2 separate regions of the Homo sapiens genome follow, and region 1 is linked to region 2. Evidence: fine-mapped expression QTL. A gene starts in region 2. The other region holds a variant in brackets. All regions are shown on one strand. Distances are from middle to middle.

The links.
Region 1: its variant is fine-mapped to the expression of LRCH4 in CD4 T cells (BLUEPRINT, PIP 0.95).

What each region holds. Positions count from the first base shown.
Region 1 is chr7:100,303,629-100,313,745 of GRCh38, forward strand. SPDYE3 (speedy/RINGO cell cycle regulator family member E3) reads left to right here and starts at 4,074. Exons shown (of 11, transcript NM_001004351.5): 1 at 4,074-4,363; 2 at 5,346-5,564; 3 at 6,732-6,950; 4 at 8,122-8,340; 5 at 9,512-9,730. The coding sequence starts at 4,258. The variant G/A (reference allele first, on the strand shown) is at 5,013.
Region 2 is chr7:100,582,161-100,592,277 of GRCh38, forward strand. LRCH4 (leucine rich repeats and calponin homology domain containing 4) reads right to left here and starts at 3,969. Exons shown (of 18, transcript NM_002319.5): 1 at 3,721-3,969; 2 at 155-299; 3 at 1-7. The coding sequence starts at 3,940. FBXO24 (F-box protein 24) reads left to right here and starts at 4,168. Exons shown (of 10, transcript NM_033506.3): 1 at 4,168-4,504; 2 at 7,817-7,915; 3 at 8,014-8,197; 4 at 9,507-9,742. The coding sequence starts at 4,466. It overlaps PCOLCE-AS1 (PCOLCE antisense RNA 1), which reads right to left. Exons shown (of 9, transcript NR_038910.1): 8 at 8,070-8,171; 9 at 7,241-7,922. RefSeq lists enhancers at 1,444-2,132, 1,586-1,880, 1,853-2,012, 2,278-2,791, 2,792-3,305 and 1 more and silencers at 3,447-3,496, 3,537-3,966, 4,727-4,846.

The DNA.
Region 1 (10,117 bases), 280 kb before region 2:
TTTCACCATGTTGGACATCATGGTCTTGGTCTCTTGGGCTCATTATCTGCCTGCCTCGGCCTCCCGAAGTGCTGGGATTACAGGTGTGAGCCACCGTGCCTGGCCTCTAGTGACCTCATTTTAACTTGATCACCTCTGTAAAGACTCTGGTTCCAATAAGGTCACCTCTAAGGTCTGGAGGGTCATGGCTTCAATACATGAATTAGGGGTGGGGGGCACACCATGCAGCCCATAATACTAGCGTATCTGGTTATGTTAAACTTGCTATAGCCACAGTCTCGCTGACTTGGATATGGTACCATGGGAAGGGCCCTTAAAGATCATCTTATCTGGTTGGGCTCAATGGCTCATGTGTGTAATTCCAGCACTCTGAGAGGCCAAGGCAAGAGGATCGCTTGTGACCAAGAGTTCAAGACCAGTCTGGGCAACAGAGCAAGATGCTATATCTACTACAGGCATGCACCTGTAGTCTCAGCTACTTGGGAGGGTGAGAGAAGAGGATTGCTTGAGCCCAGGAGGCAACAGAGAGCTGATTGTACCACTGCACCCCAGCCAAGGCAACAGAGACCTTGTCTCTAAAAAACAAAAACAGGCCAGGTGCAGTGTCTTATGCCTGTATTCCCAGCACTTTGACAGGCAGAGGCAGGTGGATCATTTGAAGTCAGGTGTTCAAGATCAGCCTGGCAAACATGACGAAACCCTAAAATACAAAAATTAGCCGGGAGTGGTGGTGGGTGCCTGTAATCTCAGCTACTCGGGAGGCTGAGGCAGGAGAATCACTTGAACCTGGGAGGCAGAGGTTGCAGTGAGCCGAGATGGAGCCACTGCACTGCAGCCTGGGTGACAAGAGCGAAACTCTGTCTCAAAATATTAGGAAAAAAAAAGAGAGAGAGCCTCTTTTCCATCTCCCCGCCACAGAGTTGTCTTCAGTAATTTCATTCCCTTTTTTCCTGAGGATTCACTGGGTTTCTGGGTCCCAGAGGGGAAGTTCTCTTCAAGGTACAGAAACCACGACTCCGCAGAGAACCGCAGAGACGGCGGCATGACCAGACCACGGACAGGTGTGGAGAAGCTGCTGGGCTAAAACTTGGGCTGAACTTCCGCTGCAGGTCGACTTATTCCCATCAGCACCAAAGCCACTGGAGGGGGTCATCCACTAGCAAATGAAGTGGGGGCACGGATTGGAGGCTGTTTCAGAAGGTCCCACTGAGCCACGGACTCAAGGCCTGGCCACAGCCCTCCCAAGCAAGGCCCAGATCATATTTCACCACGCTCAGAAAACCTTGTCAGCTCATTTCAGTCCACGGTGACTTTGCTTTCTTTAGGATCTCTCTTGCACTGTCCAACTCAGAGAATTTCAAATCTGAATGGATTCCAATGATGGAGCTAAATCAGGCCTCACCTCAGTTTTTTAATTACAATCAATAGGGCTGGGTCCCAGCATCTGTGTCTTAATGTTCCTCCATGTGATCCTCATGCTGAAAGGCTGGTATTTGAAAATCCCTTTTTTTGGGGAGTGAAGGGTTTTTTTTAGAGACAGGCCTCACTCTGATGCCCAGCCTGGAATGCAGTGGTAGATCACAGCTCACTGCAGCCTCGAACTCCTGGCCGCAAGAAATCCTCCCACCTTAGCCAACCAAAGTGTTGGGATTGCAGGAGTGACCACTGTGTCCAGCCAGGAAAGCCCTTCTGTTTCACTTGAATGATATTTCTGCCGCAGACCTACAGCCATTGTTGTATTAAACGGCATCATTGCAGGAAAAGAAAAGGTGAGAGGTGACTGTTTTGCTTTTTTCTGAACATATCAGACCAAACCTGGGCTGTCTGGCACTTTTTTTTTTTTTTTGAGTCGGAGTCTCACTCTGTCGCCCAGGCTGGAGTGTAGTGTCGTGATCTCGGCTCACTGGAACCTCCACCATCCCGGTTCAAGTGATTCTCCTGCCTCAGCCCCGCAAGTAGCTGGAATTACAGAAGTGCACTCCCACACCCAGCTCATTGTTTCTGTATTTTTACAGAAAAACAGACAGGTTTCACCATGTTGGCCAGGCTGATCTCAACCTCCTCACCTCTGGTTATCTGTCGGCATCGGCTTCCAAAAGTGCTGGGATTACAAGTGTGAGCCACCGCGCCTGGTTTGCCCATTTTTTGACAATGTATCAACATCATCTAAGATGGGCACTGCCTCAGTGTAGTGTGTCTAGACAAGGTGGCCGGAACAGAGAGGAATATGCATACCAGGCTTAAAGACGGGTTAAATCAGAGCTTTTCATTCCACAAAAGAGCAATTTTAATGAGGTCAGAACATGGATGTTCTAATATTTGAAAGCCTGTTAACTAGGAGAGAGAGAGAGTAAAGTGATTTGTTGTAGGAGGACACACCCAGCTCTGACGGTTTAAAGCGTCATGAATGCAAATTTGAACTCCAGAAAAGCAGAGCTTCCTAACAATGGGACTTCCACAGCAATGGGATTTCCTTCCACATTCAGTTTGTGCCTTTCCCATGAGCGAGAGACTCCTAGGAGAGCCGCAGCCCGTTAGGAAGCCATGTGGGAACTCATCCACAGGTTCTTTTTGTTTGTTTTTTTTTTTTTTTTGAGATGTAGTTTTGCTCTTGTTGCCCAGGCTGGAGTGCAATGGTGCGACCTTGGCTCACTGCAACCTCCGCCTCCCAAGTTTAAGCCATTCTGCTGCCCCCGCCTCCTGAGTGGCTGGGATTACAGGCACCCACCACCATGCCTGACTAATTTTTTGTATTTTTAGAAGAGATGGGGTTTCACCATGTTGGCCAGGCTGCTCTTAAACTCCTGACCTCAAGCGATCCACCTGCTATGGCCTCCCAAAGCGCTGGGATTACAGGCGTGAGCCACTGTGCCTGGCCGGAACCCACAGGTTCTTTGGATGGTCTCTGAATGTCATGAAACTCTTTTATATTTAATTAAAAAAATTTTTTTGACACAAGGTCTTGCTGTGTTGCCCAGACTGGAGTGCGGTGTCACGATCACAGCTCACTGCAGCCCCTAACTCCTAGGCTCAAGCAATCCTCCTGCCACCTCAGTCTCTCAAGTTGTTGGAACACAGGTGCCAGCCACGACACCTGGCTAATTTTGTTCTGTTTTGTTTTGTTTTGTTTGAGATGGGGTCTTGCTATGTTGCCTACACTGGTCTTGAACTGCTGGCCTCAGGCAGTCTTCCTCCCTTGGCCACCCAAAGAGATGGGATTGCAAGCATGAGCCACTGTGCACAGCTGAGATTTTTCGACTTAGTCTTTTTGTACACCCAGTATCTTATAGAATATCCATAATATAGATTCATAAATAAACCATTTCCTTCAATAGTATAAATAAATAAACCACTGCTATAAATGGTGGAATTTCTGAGTTAAGAGCAATACATATGATACAAAACTTGATATATAGAGTTTCTTAGCCAAACTGGAGGGGCTGGCTTTAGGTGATCCGTGGACTCCCTGAAACTGGGGACACCATTGGAAATATGTGTGAGCTCATGGGCAGTTTCCGATGATTTCCAGTCCTCAAAATATCTCTTGGACTCAAAGATGCCTTAGGGCAGAGGACACGTTACACCCAGTACAGAATCTCGGACAGTGAATATCAGTAAACATTCGGCAGAAAAGCTCTGCCAAATTGAGTGCTCTGATGTGACTTTTTCATCAAGTCAATGTTCCTGGGATCTCTTGTACATGATACTCTCACTCTTATAAGGTTTCATCGTTTCTGCTTACCCTAGTTTTCTTTCCCATCCTGATCCCTCTCCCACCAGACTGGACTCTGAAACGGGCATGTACAGAGAAGAGGAGACCCCAACACGCTTCAAGCTTTGAGTGGAGAGGACACAGCCTCTGCTGGGACAGGGAACAGAGGGATGCGGAGACCCTGAAGATGCTTTTGGACAGTGGTCTGAGGTTGGGACAGTGGCAGGAGATACCATTCACCCAGGATCTCCAGGACAAGAGATCAGCCTGGCAGTTACATGTGTTTTTGTTCAAACTGGTTGCCAGGTTGGAATGACCTATGACATCAGAGATTCCGACCTTCCTGATTGGAAGGACCGGACTCTGTCGGCGCCTGGCAGTTCAGGTGAACAACAGTAACTTCTCAGAGCTGTTCTCCACTCCTGACTTCTCCCAGCCTCGAGAATTGATAACACACTCTTCTGGATCCCAGCAGTGTCCAGAAGAAGACCAAGGACAGAACAGAGACTAGCTTCGGTGAGATTGGACAGATTTTGGGAAAGATCATGACGAGCCATCAACCGCAGCCCCAGGAAGAGCAGAGCCCCCAGCGGAGCACCTCAGGGTACCCCCTCCAGGAGGTGGTGGATGATGAAGTGTCGGGACCATCAGGTGAGGGGACTGGAGGAAGAAGAGGTGGCATAGGATTGACTAAGACGAAGGAAGGGGGCCAGGTGCGGTAGCTCACCCCTGTAACACCAACACTTTGGGAGGCCGAGGCGGGCAGATCACCTGAGGTCAGCAGTTCAAGACCAGCCTGGCCAACATGGTGAAACCCCATCTCTACTAAAAGTACAAAAATTAGCCAGGCGGTAGTGGTGTGTGCCTATAATCCCAGCTACTCGGGAGGCTGAGACAGGAGAATCGCTTGAGCCTGGGAGGAAGAGGGTGCAGTGAGCCGAGATCGTGCTACTGCACTCCAGTCTGGGTGAGAGAGTGAGACGCTGTCTCAAAAAAAAAAAAAAAAAAAGAAGAAGAAAAAAAAGAAGGGTCAGAGGTCAGGAAGGAGAACCTGGGGAGGGTGTGTGGGAAGAATGGAGAAATTCAGGCTGGGTGCAGTGGCTCACACCTGTAATCCCAGCACTTTGGGAAGCCAAGGCAGGCGGATCACGTGAGGCCAAGAGTTTGAGACCAGCCTGGCCAACATGGCGAAACCCCGTCTCTACTAAAAGTACAAAATTGAGCTGGGCATTATGGCAGGCACCTGTAATCCCAGCTACCTGAGAGGCTGAGGCAGGAGAATAACTGGAATCCGGGAGAT[G/A]GATGTTGCAGTGAGCTGAGATTGTACCACTACACTCCAGCCTGGGTGACAAAGCAAGATTCTGTCTCGAAACAAAAAAAAAAAAAGAGGGCCTCAGAGAGCCAGGGACCAGGGAACGATATGACGCAGTGTTCTGAGGACAGAGAGAGGGAAGAATGGGGAGGGGAAGGAGTGGCACATGGGGTTGAGCAGAGGAGAAAGTCAGAAAGGTGGCTTGGAGAAGCCAGCAGTCTGAGAGGCTGGGGAGGATGGAGAATGGTTTGGGGTTTGGGGTCGGGGTCTAACGTGATCAGTTGCAGAAGCATTACACGGTGGCCTGGTTTCTTTACTCAGCCCCTGGGGTAGATCCCAGCCCCCCACGTAGGTCCCTTGGCTGCAAAAGGAAGAGGGAGTGTTTGGATGAATCTGATGATGAGCCAGAGAAGGAGCTCGCCCCTGAGCCTGAGGAGACCTGGGTGGCGGAGACGCTGTGTGGCCTCAAGATGAAGGCGAAGCGACGGCGAGTGTCGCTCGTGCTCCCTGAGTACTACGAGGCCTTCAACAGGCTGCTTGGTAGGAGGACACCCCAGAGAGCACCTCCAATCCTGTTCTTTCTAAAAAGAGGAAACTTCCAATAACCACACTTTTCCAATGGGAAAAATATGCCCCAGTGGGTGAGCTCTCCATGCGGGAGGACTCTGAAGTGATCACTCATGAGGGACACTTAGGAGACAACAGAGGATTAGGTAGACTTGATAAAGGTCGGTGCTTGGGATAAGAAAGCTTGGTTTTGGGCCAGGCGCTGTGGCTCCCGCCTGAGATCCCAGCACGTTGGGAGGCTGAGGCAAGAGGATTGCTTGAACTCAGGACTTCGAGGCTGCAGTGAGCTATGACTGCACCACTGCACTCCAGCCTGAGTGACAGAGCAAAACTCTGCGTCAAAAGAAAAACCAAGGCTGGGCACAGTAGCTCATGCCTGTAGTTCCAGCTACTCGGGAGGCTGAGACAGGAGAATCGCTTGAGCCTGGGAGGAAGAGGGTGCAGTGAGCCGAGATCGTGCTACTGCACTCCAGTCTGGGTGAGAGAGTGAGACGCTGTCTCAAAAAAAAAAAAAAAAAAGAAGAAAAAAAAGAAGGGTCAGAGGTCAGGAAGGAGAACCTGGGGAGGGTGTGTGGGAAGAATGGAGAAATTCAGGCTGGGTGCAGTGGCTCACACCTGTAATCCCAGCACTTTGGGAAGCCAAGGCAGGTGGATCACGTGAGGCCAGGAGTTTGAGACCAGCCTGGCCAACATGGTGAAACCCCCGTCTCTACTAAAAGTACAAAATTGAGCTGGGCATTATGGCAGGCACCTGTAATCCCAGCTACCTGAGAGGCTGAGGCAGGAGAATAACTGGAATCCGGGAGATAGATGTTGCAGTCAGCTGAGATTGCACCACTACACTCCAGCCTGGGTGACAAAGCAAGATTCTGTCTCGAAACAGAAAAAAAAAAGAGGGCCTCAGAGAGCCAGGGACCAGGGAACGATATGACGCAGTGTTCTGAGGACAGAGAGAGGGAAGAATGGGGAGGGGAAGGAGTGGCACATGGGGTTGAGCAGAGGAGAAAGTCAGAAAGGTGGCTTGGAGAAGCCAGCAGTCTGAGAGGCTGGGGAGGATGGAGAGTGGTTTGGGGTTTGGGGTCGGGGTCTAACGTGATCAGTTGCAGAAGCATTACACGGTGGCCTGGTTTCTTTACTCAGCCCCTGGGGTAGATCCCAGCCCCCCACGTAGGTCCCTTGGCTGCAAAAGGAAGAGGGAGTGTTTGGATGAATCTGATGATGAGCCAGAGAAGGAGCTCGCCCCTGAGCCTGAGGAGACCTGGGTGGCGGAGACGCTGTGTGGCCTCAAGATGAAGGCGAAGCGACGGCGAGTGTCGCTCGTGCTCCCTGAGTACTACGAGGCCTTCAACAGGCTGCTTGGTAGGAGGACACCCCAGAGAGCACCTCCAATCCTGTTCTTTCTAAAAAGAGGAAACTTCCAATAACCACACTTTTCCAATGGGAAAAATATGCCCCAGTGGGTGAGCTCTCCATGCGGGAGGACTCTGAAGTGATCACTCATGAGGGACACTTAGGAGACAACAGAGGATTAGGTAGACTTGATAAAGGTCGGTGCTTGGGATAAGAAAGCTTGGTTTTGGGCCAGGCGCTGTGGCTCCCGCCTGAGATCCCAGCACGTTGGGAGGCTGAGGCAAGAGGATTGCTTGAACTCAGGACTTTGAGGCTGCAGTGAGCTATGACTGCACCACTGCACTCCAGCCTGGGTGACAGAGCAAAACTCTGCGTCAAAAGAAAAACCAAGGCTGGGCACAGTAGCTCATGCCTGTAGTTCCAGCTACTCGGGAGGCTGAGACAGGAGAATCGCTTGAGCCTGGGAGGAAGAGGGTGCAGTGAGCCGAGATCGTGCTACTGCACTCCAGTCTGGGTGAGAGAGTGAGACGCTGTCTCAAAAAAAAAAAAAAAAAAAGAAGAAGAAAAAAAAGAAGGGTCAGAGGTCAGGAAGGAGAACCTGGGGAGGGTGTGTGGGAAGAATGGAGAAATTCAGGCTGGGTGCAGTGGCTCACACCTGTAATCCCAGCACTTTGGGAAGCCAAGGCAGGCGGATCACGTGAGGCCAGGAGTTTGAGACCAGCCTGGCCAACATGGTGAAACCCCCGTCTCTACTAAAAGTACAAAATTGAGCTGGGCATTATGGCAGGCACCTGTAATCCCAGCTACCTGAGAGGCTGAGGCAGGAGAATAACTGGAATCCGGGAGATAGATGTTGCAGTCAGCTGAGATTGCACCACTACACTCCAGCCTGGGTGACAAAGCAAGATTCTGTCTCGAAACAAAAAAAAAAAAGAGGGCCTCAGAGAGCCAGGGACCAGGGAAGGATATGACGCAGTGTTCTGAGGACAGAGAGAGGGAAGAATGGGGAGGGGAAGGAGTGGCACATGGGGTTGAGCAGAGGAGAAAGTCAGAAAGGTGGCTTGGAGAAGCCAGCAGTCTGAGAGGCTGGGGAGGATGGAGAATGGTTTGGGGTTTGGGGTCGGGGTCTAACGTGATCAGTTGCAGAAGCATTACACGGTGGCCTGGTTTCTTTACTCAGCCCCTGGGGTAGATCCCAGCCCCCCACGTAGGTCCCTTGGCTGCAAAAGGAAGAGGGAGTGTTTGGATGAATCTGATGATGAGCCAGAGAAGGAGCTCGCCCCTGAGCCTGAGGAGACCTGGGTGGCAGAGACGCTGTGTGGCCTCAAGATGAAGGCGAAGCGACGGCGAGTGTCGCTCGTGCTCCCTGAGTACTACGAGGCCTTCAACAGGCTGCTTGGTAGGAGGACACCCCAGAGAGCACCTCCAATCCTGTTCTTTCTAAAAAGAGGAAACTTCCAATAACCACACTTTTCCAATGGGAAAAATATGCCCCAGTGGGTGAGCTCTCCATGCGGGAGGACTCTGAAGTGATCACTCATGAGGGACACTTAGGAGTCAACAGAGGATTAGGTAGACTTGATAAAGGTCGGTGCTTGGGATAAGAAAGCTTGGTTTTGGGCCAGGCGCTGTGGCTCCCGCCTGAGATCCCAGCACGTTGGGAGGCTGAGGCAAGAGGATTGCTTGAACTCAGGACTTTGAGGCTGCAGTGAGCTATGACTGCACCACTGCACTCCAGCCTGGGTGACAGAGCAAAACTCTGCGTCAAAAGAAAAGCCAAGGCTGGGCACAGTAGCTCATGCCTGTAGTTCCAGCTACTCGGGAGGCTGAGACAGGAGAATCGCTTGAGCCTGGGAGGAAGAGGGTGCAGTGAGCCAAGATCGTGCTACTGCACTCCAGTCTGGGTGAGAGAGTGAGACGCTGTCTCAAAAAAAAAAAAAAAAAAAGAAGAAGAGAAAAAAGAAGGGTCAGAGGTCAGGAAGGAGAACCTGGGGAGGGTGTGTGGGAAGAATGGAGAAATTCAGGCTGGGTGCAGTGGCTCACACCTGTAATCCCAGCACTTTGGGAAGCCAAGGCAGGCGGATCACGTGAGGCCAGGAGTTTGAGACCAGCCTGGCCAACATGGTGAAACCCCCGTCTCTACTAAAAGTACAAAATTGAGCTGGGCATTATGGCAGGCACCTGTAATCCCAGCTACCTGAGAGGCTGAGGCAGGAGAATAACTGGAATCCGGGAGATAGATGTTGCAGTCAGCTGAGATTGCACCACTACACTCCAGCCTGGGTGACAAAGCAAGATTCTGTCTCGAAACAAAAAAAAAAAAGAGGGCCTCAGAGAGCCAGGGACCAGGGAACGATATGTCGCAGTGTTCTGAGGACAGAGAGAGGGAAGAATGGGGAGGGGAAGGAGTGGCACATGGGGTTGAGCAGAGGAGAAAGTCAGAAAGGTGGCTTGGAGAAGCCAGCAGTCTGCGAGGCTGGGGAGGATGGAGAGTGGTTTGGGGTTTGGGGTCGGGGTCTAACGTGATCAGTTGCAGAAGCATTACACGGTGGCCTGGTTTCTTTACTCAGCCCCTGGGGTAGATCCCAGCCCCCCACGTAGGTCCCTTGGCTGCAAAAGGAAGAGGGAGTGTTTGGATGAATCTGATGATGAGCCAGAGAAGGAGCTCGCCCCTGAGCCTGAGGAGACCTGGGTGGCGGAGACGCTGTGTGGCCTCAAGATGAAGGCGAAGCGACGGCGAGTGTCGCTCGTGCTCCCTGAGTACTACGAGGCCTTCAACAGGCTGCTTGGTAGGAGGACACCCCAGAGAGCACCTCCAATCCTGTTCTTTCTAAAAAGAGGAAACTTCCAATAACCACACTTTTCCAATGGGAATAATATGCCCCAGTGGGTGAGCTCTCCATGCGGGAGGACTCTGAAGTGATCACTCATGAGGGACACTTAGGAGACAACAGAGGATTAGGTAGACTTGATAAAGGTCGGTGCTTGGGATAAGAAAGCTTGGTTTTGGGCCAGGCGCTGTGGCTCCCGCCTGAGATCCCAGCACGTTGGGAGGCTGAGGCAAGAGGATTGCTTGAACTCAGGACTTTGAGGCTGCAGTGAGCTATGACTGCACCACTGCACTCCAGCCTGGGTGACAGAGCAAAACTCTGCGTCAAAAGAAAAACCAAGGCTGG
Region 2 (10,117 bases):
GTTTCGGCTGTGGAAGGGAGAAAGGCAGCGGACTGGCTCCCCAGGCATGGCATCCCAGCACTGCCATCCTCTCGGGGTCACTGGGTGGGTCACTCAGTAGTACTTGAGACTGAGAAGCACACGCTCCCACGTGGCCCTGGCTCGGCCTCCCTACCTGAGGTTGAGGTAGGTGAGGGCTGTGAGATTCCCCAAGGCTGGGTTCAGGCATCTCAGGCAATTGTGGTAGAGGCTCAGGCCCTCCAGGGACACCAGCTGGCACGCCGCCTCGGGCACCTCGGGAAACCGGTTCCGGGACAGGTCTGGGGAAAAGGAGGTGTCGGGGAGAGTTGCGGAAAGGCCCAGCCCGGACAGGACCTTCAGTCCCCCCAGAGCCGGCTGCCCACTCCCTCACCTCCACACCTAAAGATTCAAGGCCATCAATGTGGCCTCCCAGGAGAGATAACAAAGCCTTCTGCCAACGGGAGCACATTCCAGGCGTGACCAGAATGGCACAGGGAAGGCAAAGGCCTTAGCGTCACTGGGCTAGAGAAGCCTCAGACTTGGGGGTTGGGGAATGTCAATGGAGGGCTATCCTGGAGAGCAGCTGGAATCTCTAACTCCTGTGGTTCCTGTTCAGAGATGCCAGGTGAGGCGGAGGACCGAAGGTGAGAGGAGGGGTCAGTGCTCATGGGAAAACAGTAAGGCGAGGGGCTGGGGGGCTCCCGGAGGGAAGATGGGAAACCCCTGGGGCAAACCACAGGGAGTGCCCATCCCTCCTCGGGGCCCTTCTTCCCTACTCCAGTGTGTTTTCAACACGGGAAAAACCACAGGTCACTCTATCTTGGTTCTAGAGATAAAGTCCCCGACACCGGACGAGTTTTTCGCCAGCCCCAAGGACCAGCAAGCCAGGTCCAAAGAATCATAAAGTTACTGATTCCCAAGGGCTGGGAGGGAAGGGCAAGAAGACCTGGTTGGAGATGGGAGCTGGAGTTCCCAGGTCCCTCCCATCTGGGCTTCTCTGGCCCAGGGCAGGCATCCTTCCTACCCTCTGCTAGCCCTAGCAGCCCGGCTCTGCTTCCTCTCTTACTGACACAGACTTCAAGAGATCAGCAACTGTGTGAGCATCTCAGGCACGGCGAGGGTGGAGAGTGTGGGAGGGCCTGGGGTCTACAATCGCCCTCTTATCTGGAGCACTGCCTTGCTATGCGGAGGCTGGCAGCCTTGGGATTCCCTGTAGCACGGACCCACTAACGGCTTAGACCTGGAGAAGCCTGCCTTTCTGTTTCCTCGGCCCAGCCTGTCCTGGGAGGGGCCCAGGGCCCGCGAGGCGGAGTCCCAGGCCACAGACCTGGTGAGCTTCTCCAAGGGCCCTTCTCAGGGAAGGGCAGGCCAGCAAAAGCAAGCAGAGGAGAGAAGCCGGGTATATCCCCCAAGGAAATGAGTCTTGTGACAGGAAATGAAGTAGAAACAATCTGTCAGGTTCTGGCTCTGGTAGGCCCCGTGTTTACCAGGGTGGATGACAGCCTGATGCCCCGGGACCCCTTTCTCTTCCTCTCTGCCCAGCCCTGGTGCACAGACAGAAGCCCTGGCCTCAGAGATGACCGTTCTGGAGAGGGTGGGGGGATGGCATTTGCCCCTCCCAGCCTCGCCTCCACCTGCCCGCTTTCTCTGCAAATGTGTTTGTGTGTGTGCATGTGGACGAAGGGGGTGGAGACCGAGTTCTCAGAGTTCTGATGGGGTAGGCGGTGGCGGGGACAAAAGCTAGGAGCGGAAGGGAGCTCAGGCAGGAGGCAGGGCACTGGGGGCACAGGATGTGGTCTGGGAGAGAATGAGCTGCACTTCTCCTTTGCAAGATGGCCCCTCCCCGCCACCTCAGGATTCTTCCTACTATCACCCCAGGGAGCCTAGTCCAAGGGAGATCAGGGACCCAAGACTAGGCGACACGCAGCGAAGACACTCAGAAAGAGATGGGAGACGGGAGGGGAAGGCTCAAGGCAGTCCGGGCAGCAAGGCACTGATGCTTTTCGTCTGCTTGGAGGGCGAGGAGAGATGGAGGGCAGGGTATGGGCAACTGTATGTTTTTGTCACTTCCCCTTTCTGTCCCTGCTTGCGGAGAGGGGACAGAGGAGAGAATTCTGGACAAGAGGGACCCCACTTGGCCTAGAACCTGGGCCCTGTGTAGAGAGTGGGGCAGAGGAGGGTTCTTGGGAAGCTGGGATTTCCGACCCCCCCCCAAGCTCACAGGAGCACGGCTGCACCCTGAGCCGGAATGCTGGGGGAGGAGGGGGCCGGGGGCGGGAGCTGGGAGGGGCCGGGGAGCTCCGGGTAGTTTTCCCCAAGAGTCCACACAGGGAGAGACAGCCTAAGGAAGTAAAGAATAACATTTGGTCTTTGTCAAAAAACAACCAAGGGGGAGGGGAAGGGAACAGACAGTGAGTGTCACACAGCTGCTGAGGTCAATCTGGAGTGTGGGGTTAGGTGGGGGTGGGAGGGAACAGGGCTGTAAGGGGCAGGAATGGCTCCTGGAGCTCACTCATTCCCCATCTCAAGTGTTGCAGAGCAGGCGAGATCAGTGGGGAGGTTTCGACTGGTTCTCCCCAGAAGAGGGAAGAGGATGTGTGCCAGTGCCGGCCTGAGTGTTCCCAGGTGAGCAGGCACCTGCTTAGGGAGAAGTAAGCACTATCCTCCAGCTCTGGTCCCCCACCGTGCAGATGAGAGGAGGAAGAGGCCTGGGCTGGGGTGAGGCTTCGGGAATGCAGTCCTCCTCCCTGATCCTGATCCCCACCCCCAGCTGCCGGCCCAAGGTCATAGGCTGCCTCCTGAGTAGCTGAGGCTTGACTCACCTGTCACAGTTAAGTCCCCCACCCCCTACCATCCACAGACACCAGGGTGGAGGGTGCATGGTTGGACAGATCCTGCGGGTGGAGGCGTGGAAGGACAGTCTCTAGCTGGCCAGCACTCCCAGCTAGGAGATAAGATTTCCTTCCCTCCAGCAACGGCCTCAAGTCCCTCCCCCGGGGGAAAGCAGAAACTGAAATGGGAATTCTAAGATCCCTATGAGGTCACAGGCTCCACAGTGACCTCACAGGCTTAGGAAGGAGGAGGAGGAATCTCAGATAAGCCGGTTGGGGATAATAGGCGGAAGAGCTCAGGGAGAAAAGAGTGAGGGGAGGTAGAGATTTGTTTCTTTCCCATAGGCTGGAGAGCTGCGTGGACAGTGGAGAGGGCCAGGACCTTAGGGGGCGGGGTTGCGGCACAGAAAGCAGAAACCTCGGGCTTAGGGGCCAGTCACTGGGAAGGGGGTGCCCGGGGCTGCTCGGATCTCGGTGGGACGGGGGTTAAGAGGTGTAGATGAAGAGGGAGAGAAAGCAGTTATTAGAGGAGCTCGTGGGGACTGCTTCATAGACCGATTGGAGCTGAGGTTAAGAGATCATGTAAATAAGCCAACCAGGTGAGGGGCGGGACCATCCTACAGGTGCGCAGATATGCAAATAAAGAGAAAGGAGGAATCTCTCCCAACGCTCGGAGGCGCAGGGCGTTCTGTGCAAACGAGAAGCACGTTCATTGTCTAGGGGGTTCTCAAAGATGGGAGAGGATGGCTGCAGGTTTAGGGCAATCAGGAGGGGCAGCAACCCTGGCCGCCAGGTGAAGGGGCGGGCCCGACTCCCGGGCCGGGCGGGGCCCGGGGTGGGGCTATGCAAATGAGGGACCCGGTTGGGCCCGGGGCCCGGCTGCACTCACCAGCCTGGGTGATGTCTGACAGGTCGTAGCTACGGGCCGCGCCCCGGGGGAAGTGCTTCAAGCGCCGGTTAGACAGGTTCAGGGTCCCGGTGGCCACGGCCTCCTCTAGGGCCCGCTCTGCACTGCGTCTCCCCGGCAGACCTGGAGACCCGGGCACGGAGGTCGTGGCTGCCGCCTCCTCACCCCCGGCGGCGAGTGGAGCCGCTACGGCCGCCGCCATCCGCTCCCGGCGGCTCCCGCTGCCTGACTGACGGGACCGGCCGTCCCTCCTTCCCCCACCCCCTCCTTGGAGCCGCCGTAGTTGCCTCAAGGGGGAGGGAGCGGTGTCCGGGACCGGACGGACCAATCGTGGCCCCGAGACGCGTCAGAAGCGGCCAATCAGAACCCGTCAGTGGGGGTGGAGCTCCGGCGCCGGAGTCTGACGAGAGAAGGGAGGGGAACAAGGATAGAGCGCTCGCCAACGGCCGACGCTCCAGGCCGTCCCGCCCAGCGCAGCTGCACCCAATCACAATGCTCAGATCGGGAGGTGGAGCCAATCAGGTCCAACCAAGAGGAGGGGACACCGGCACTCCACTAGCAGGAAAACGGGCCGAGGGACCGCAAGCAGGGGGTGCCTAGTCCTCGTCCCCCAAAGACCAATCGTAAGCCAGATACAGGCGAGTGACTGTCAAGAAGGCCAATTAGAGCCTCCGAAGGGAATCTGGACCTGCCTCTTCTCTGAGGGACGGCTCTACCTACCAATAGCATGGGCGAGAAGGCGGTCCCTTTGCTAAGGAGGAGGCGGGTGAGCTAGAACTTTAAGACTGAGGTTAAGAATGAACGCGGAGCCCCTGGCCGGCCGGGAACGCAGTTCGCCGCTGCAGTGGCGAGTGCGAGCTGGACGTGTTAGGGGGCTAGCCGGCGTCCAGGGCTTGAGGGGATTCGGGCGACTGCTTGAGGCCAGTGCACTGGCGGTTGTCGCAGCTGAAGGGGCAGCGGGGGGACCTCCGACTGTGAAGCCTCTGGCAGGGGTCTCGGGACCCCCGGGCTGGGGGCGGGCGGGGGGCTTCCCAGAGCCTGGAGATGCCCAGCTCGAGGAGGGAGGGTGTAGGTGCAGCGTTGCACGGTCTGCCGTCTCACCCGAGGAGCTCCCCTGGACAGGAATGGAGAGGGGACCAGACCACGGGGTTTTAGAGGCTTAGAAAGGATCTCACCGCCTAGAACACGCCCTTGGTGCTACGAATGCAGAAACTGAGGCAGAGGGAAGTTGATGCGTTAGCAAGAGCGAACAGCAAGTTCCTGACAGCTGGCTTGCTCTAGAAACCAGGTCTCTGGATCCTCCACGCACAGCCCTTTCCCGCTCCCTCAGTTTTCACAGTGGATGTTTTCACTCCCTTCCTCTCTTCCTCCCTCCCTCCCTCTCCCTTCCGTTCCCTTCCTCTTTTTATTTTTTTATTTTTTGAGATGGAGTCTCGCTCAGTCGCCCAGGCTGGAGTGCAGTGGCGCGATCTCGGCTCACAGCAACCTCCACTGTCCGGGTTCAAGCAATTCTCCTGCCTCAGCCTCCCGAGTAGCTGGGACTACAGGCGCCCGCCACCACACCCGGCTAATTTTTTGTATTTTAGTAGAGACGGGGTTTCACCGTGTTGCCCAGGCTGGTCGCAAACTCAGGAGCTCAGGCAATATGCCCTCCTCGGCCTCCCAAAGTGCTGGCATTACAGGCGTGAGCCACCGCGCCCGGCCTTTTTTTTTTTTTTTTTAAGAAGGTCTGATTCTGTCGCCCAGGCTGGAGTGCAGTGGTGCAGTCATGGCTCACTGCAGCCTTGAATGCCTGGGCTCAAGTGATCCTCCTGCCTCAGCCTCCCAAGTAGCTGGGACCACGGGCGGCACCACTGCACCTGGCTAATTTATTTTCAATTTTTGTAGAGATGGGGTTTTGCTATGTTGCCCAGGCTGGTCTCAAACTTTTGACCTCAAGCGATCCTGCCTCTGCCTCCCAAAGTACTGGGATCACAGGCGTGAGCCACCGCACCCGGCCCACAGTGGACTTTTTCTTTCTTTTGAGACAGAGTCGCTCTGTTGCCCAGGCTGGAGTGCAGTGGCTTGATCGCAGCTCACTGCAGCCTCAACCTCCCACCTCAGCCTCCCGAGTAACTGGGACTACAAGCACGCACCACCATGCCAGCTAATTGTATTTTTTGTAGAGACAGGGTCCTACTATGTTGCCCAGGCTGATCTCAAACTCCTGGGCTCAAGCAATGCTCCCACCTCGGCCTCCCGAAGTGCTGGGATTATAAGCGTGAGCCACAAAGCCTGGCCCACAGTGGACTTTTTCTATTCACAACCTCTCGTTTGCCTCCTGGGGTGAAATGGAGTGGATAAAGGGGACCCAAATGCAAGAGGAATGGAAAATACCTTTCTGTCTACTTGGAGATCTTCCTTTCTAAGTGGCATGAGTCCCTAATGCAGTCCCCTCCCTATGTGGTAGGTTGCCCAGAAATAAGTCACTGAAGTTGCTTTCTCCTTAGTTCACATCTCAGAGGTTGATATTCCTGAGTAGTTGCTGAAGAATTAAAATTCCATCTCAGGCATCCCAGCCTAGCCATGGCTAGGCACCATACATAAGGGAATTTGGGTGGTCAGTCTGGTGCAGTCAATGAACGGATCTGTGACACTGTGTGGTGAGGGCTGGTGGTCTGGCAGGATGGGACTCCTTTGAGCCCCTGCAAGAGCCAGCCACTCCTTGGATTTATTGGTGTAGATCTGGCCTGAGTGGGACAGACACAACCCTGACCCCTGCTGTTTCTCCTGATAAATGTCACCCCACATAAGACAAAGCTAATATCAGAGACCCTGGGAGAAATCCTAAGCTTTCAGAGGAAATCCATCCCTTTCTCCCACCTTAATAGGTTGTCCTTTATACATGCAATGATGTTACTGTCCCTCAGGAAAGCAAAAGCAGTCTTCTTTTTTGTTTGTTTTTTTTGAAACTGGGTATCATTCTCGCCCGGGCTGGAGTGCAGTGGCACGATCATAGCTCACTGCTGCCTCAAACTGGGCTCAAGCAATCCTCCTGCCTCAGCCTCCTGTGTAGCTGGGACTACAGGGGTGCATCACCACGCCTGGGTAATTTTTAAGTTTTTTTTTTTTTTTAATAGACGCAGGGTCTATGTTGACCAGGCTGGTCTTGAAACCCATGGCCTCAAGCCATCCTTGCACCATGGCCACCCAAAAGTGCTGGGATTTCGGGCGTTAGCCACCGGCACCAGGCTGCAGTCTCCTTTTGGATGTGTTTTTTCACAAGTCTAAAGAGTTTGCTGAATCATTTGTGAGCTAAACGATTATTAGCACAGTCACCTCTCCATCTCACCTGTCAAACTGAGTTTATAGTTTTTTGAGTCTATACTCTTGAGCTACCAATCCCTAGAGGCCTTGGCCTGCTGAAATGTGAGGAATTCACTAGTGTTTCTCTACAGAGTTAGTGCTAAAAGGGCCTCAAATAGGAAAACTTCCTCCTGCTCCCTGAAATAAAGATGTCACCTACCAGTAATTCACACTTTATTTCTCCAGTAAAATGCATATCCCTTGAGCCATGTGATGGCTAGAACTGAGCTAGAACCCAGGAGCTGTCTAAGAGATGGGTCCTGGGCAAGATTAAAGGGAACAGGTCACAGTGGCCAAACAGTGAGGTCACAGAGAGGTTTGTTAGCCCCAGACTCCATGGGGGAGGGGCCTAGGAGGCAGAGGGGCCTCAGAGGTCCCCCAAGCCTAGGCTGGGGACATGGTGTGGGAAAGCCAGCAGGAACGGGGGGGCCAAGGGCCTAGGAGACAGGAGGGCAGGAGCAGGGAGGGGGCAATCAGGATGGTCAGGGGAAGCCAGAGACGGAAGCTGCAAAAATTCACCAGGCTGTGTGGACGGGAGGAGGGGCTCCGGGTGAGGGGGATTGGCCGCAGGAGATCGGGAGGAGTTATTTGGAGAAGTTAGGGATGGGTCTGGAGAGAGAGGGGAGGAAATAACTGTGCCCAGCTAGAGTCAGATGAGCCCCAAGGTAGGCGGAGAGAAGGGAAAAAAGGATGTGGGACCCTCATGGGACCCTATGCACCCCTTCTTGGGTAGGTGAAGAGAAGCTGCCCTTCTTGTGGCTCGGAGCTTGGGGTTGAAGAGAAGAGGGGGAAAGGAAATCCGATTTCCATCCAGTTGTTCCCCCCAGAGCTGGTGAGTCCTTGGGGAGGGGGATTGAGAATAATAGGATTGGGGGCCAGATCACCGAGGGGCCACCAAAGACTCCCCGCTTCTTCCCTCCTCCCTCCCAGGTGGAGCATATCATCTCATTCCTCCCAGTCAGAGACCTTGTTGCCCTCGGCCAGACCTGCCGCTACTTCCACGAAGTGTGCGATGGGGAAGGCGTGTGGAGACGCATCTGTCGCAGACTCAGTCCGCGCCTCCAAGATCAGGGTTCTGGAGTCCGGCCCTGGAAGAGAGCTGCCATTCTGAACTGTACACCTTCCCCAGAACCTCCCGTTCTCCTTGCCTCTGTCCCGCCTTAGCCTTCCTGCTCTCTAAAGTCCCCTGATGACCCCCACACTCCCAACAGTGCTTCCAGGGCCCCTTTCTCCGGAAGAAACGGGTCCAGTTCAAACATTCTCCCTTGAGTACTTCCTCCAAGTCTTCGGAATCCACCCACAGCCCCCGTTAGCGGCCTCCCTGCCAAGTCTCCCTCTGTACACAGACACTTCCCGCTTTTTCCCTAGAGGCATCCCTCACTCCCCAAACCTGGAGTTTTCCCTCCTCTAACCCAAGGCTTCTGAACTCACTGTTGATATTCTGGGCAAAATAATTCCTTGATGTGGGGAGCTGTCCTCTGCATGGTGGGATGTTTAAGCAGCAACCCTGGCCTCCACCCACCAGATGGCCAGCAGCATCCCCCTTAATTGTGACAACCAATGCCCTTGAAGGACAAAATCACCCCTAGCCTGAGAACCATGCCATAAACCCTCTTCCCCTCCAGGGATCCCCCAGGGTGTACTTCTTACACTCACTGGGAGATTAAAAGAGAAGGGGGACCCAGAAAACAGATCCAAAGCTAGGGGTGAGGGAGGATGACCGGCCTTCATCAATCATTCCTTTTCACTCCTGTTTCTGTCTCTTCTCTTTTCTTTCTTTTTCTTTGATTTTTTTTTTTTTTTTTTTTTTTTGAGACAGGGTCTTGCTCTGTCACCCAGGCTGGAGCACAGTGGTGCAATCTTGGCTCAATGCAACCTCCACCTCCCGGGTTCAAGTATTCTCGTGCCTCAGCCTCCTGAGTAGCTGGGATTACAGGCTCCCGCCACCACACCCGGATAATTTTTGTATTTTTAGTAGAGATGGGGTTTTGCCACGTTGCCCAGGCTGGTCTCAAACTCCTGGGCTCCCAAAGTGCTGGGATTACAGGCGTGCAAAAATTCACTGAGCTGTGAGGATGGGAGGAGGGGCTCAGGGTGAGGGGGGTGGATGCCGCACGCAGCCTCTGTGTCTTTATTCTTAGAGTTTTCCTCAACATCACTGATGCAAGGTTGCACCAAAGAACTGCTCACTAAGAAGCAAATGTTTGACCCTGGGCTGAGGTGGGGTGGAGACTAAAGTTCACATGTCGAGTATAATCTAAGCTTATTTTCCACATCTCCTTCATAAGGGGTCTGTTTGTTCCCCTGTCCTGGGGATGGGGAGGAACTACAAACCAGCGTGTCTAAGAAATCTACCCAAGCTCCAACTCATCTCCCTCGTGTCATCTCATCCCTTGAACCTTCCATCTCCTTCCTTCCTCCAGACACGAAGGGCCTGTATTTCCAGGCATTTGGAGGCCGCCGCCGATGTCTCAGCAAGAGCGTGGCCCCCTTGCTAGCCCACGGCTACCGCCGCTTCTTGCCCACCAAGGATCACGTCTTCATTCTTGACTACGTGGGGACCCTCTTCTTCCTCAAAAATGCCCTGGTCTCCACCCTCGGCCAGATGCAGTGGAAGCGGGCCTGTCGCTATGTTGTGTTGTGTCGTGGAGCCAAGGATGTGAGTAGCAGAACCCTGGCAGCTGAGAGCCCACCTGTATTAGTCCATTTTCACACTGCTATAAAGACGTACCAGAGGCCGGGTGCAGTGGCTTACACCTGTAATCCTAGCACTTTGGGAGGCTGAGGCAGGCGGATCAGCTGAGACCAGGAGTTCGAGACCAGCCTGGCCAAATGGCGAAACCCGTCTCTACTAAAAATACAAAAATTAGCTGGGTGTGGTGGTGGGTGCCTATAATTCCAGCTACTTGGGAGGCTGAGGCAGGAGAATTGCTTGAACTTGGGAGGCAGAGGCTGCAGTGAGCTGAGATCGCACCCTTGCACTCCAGCCTGGGCAACAAGAGGGAGACTCCGTCTCGAAAAAAAAAGACATACC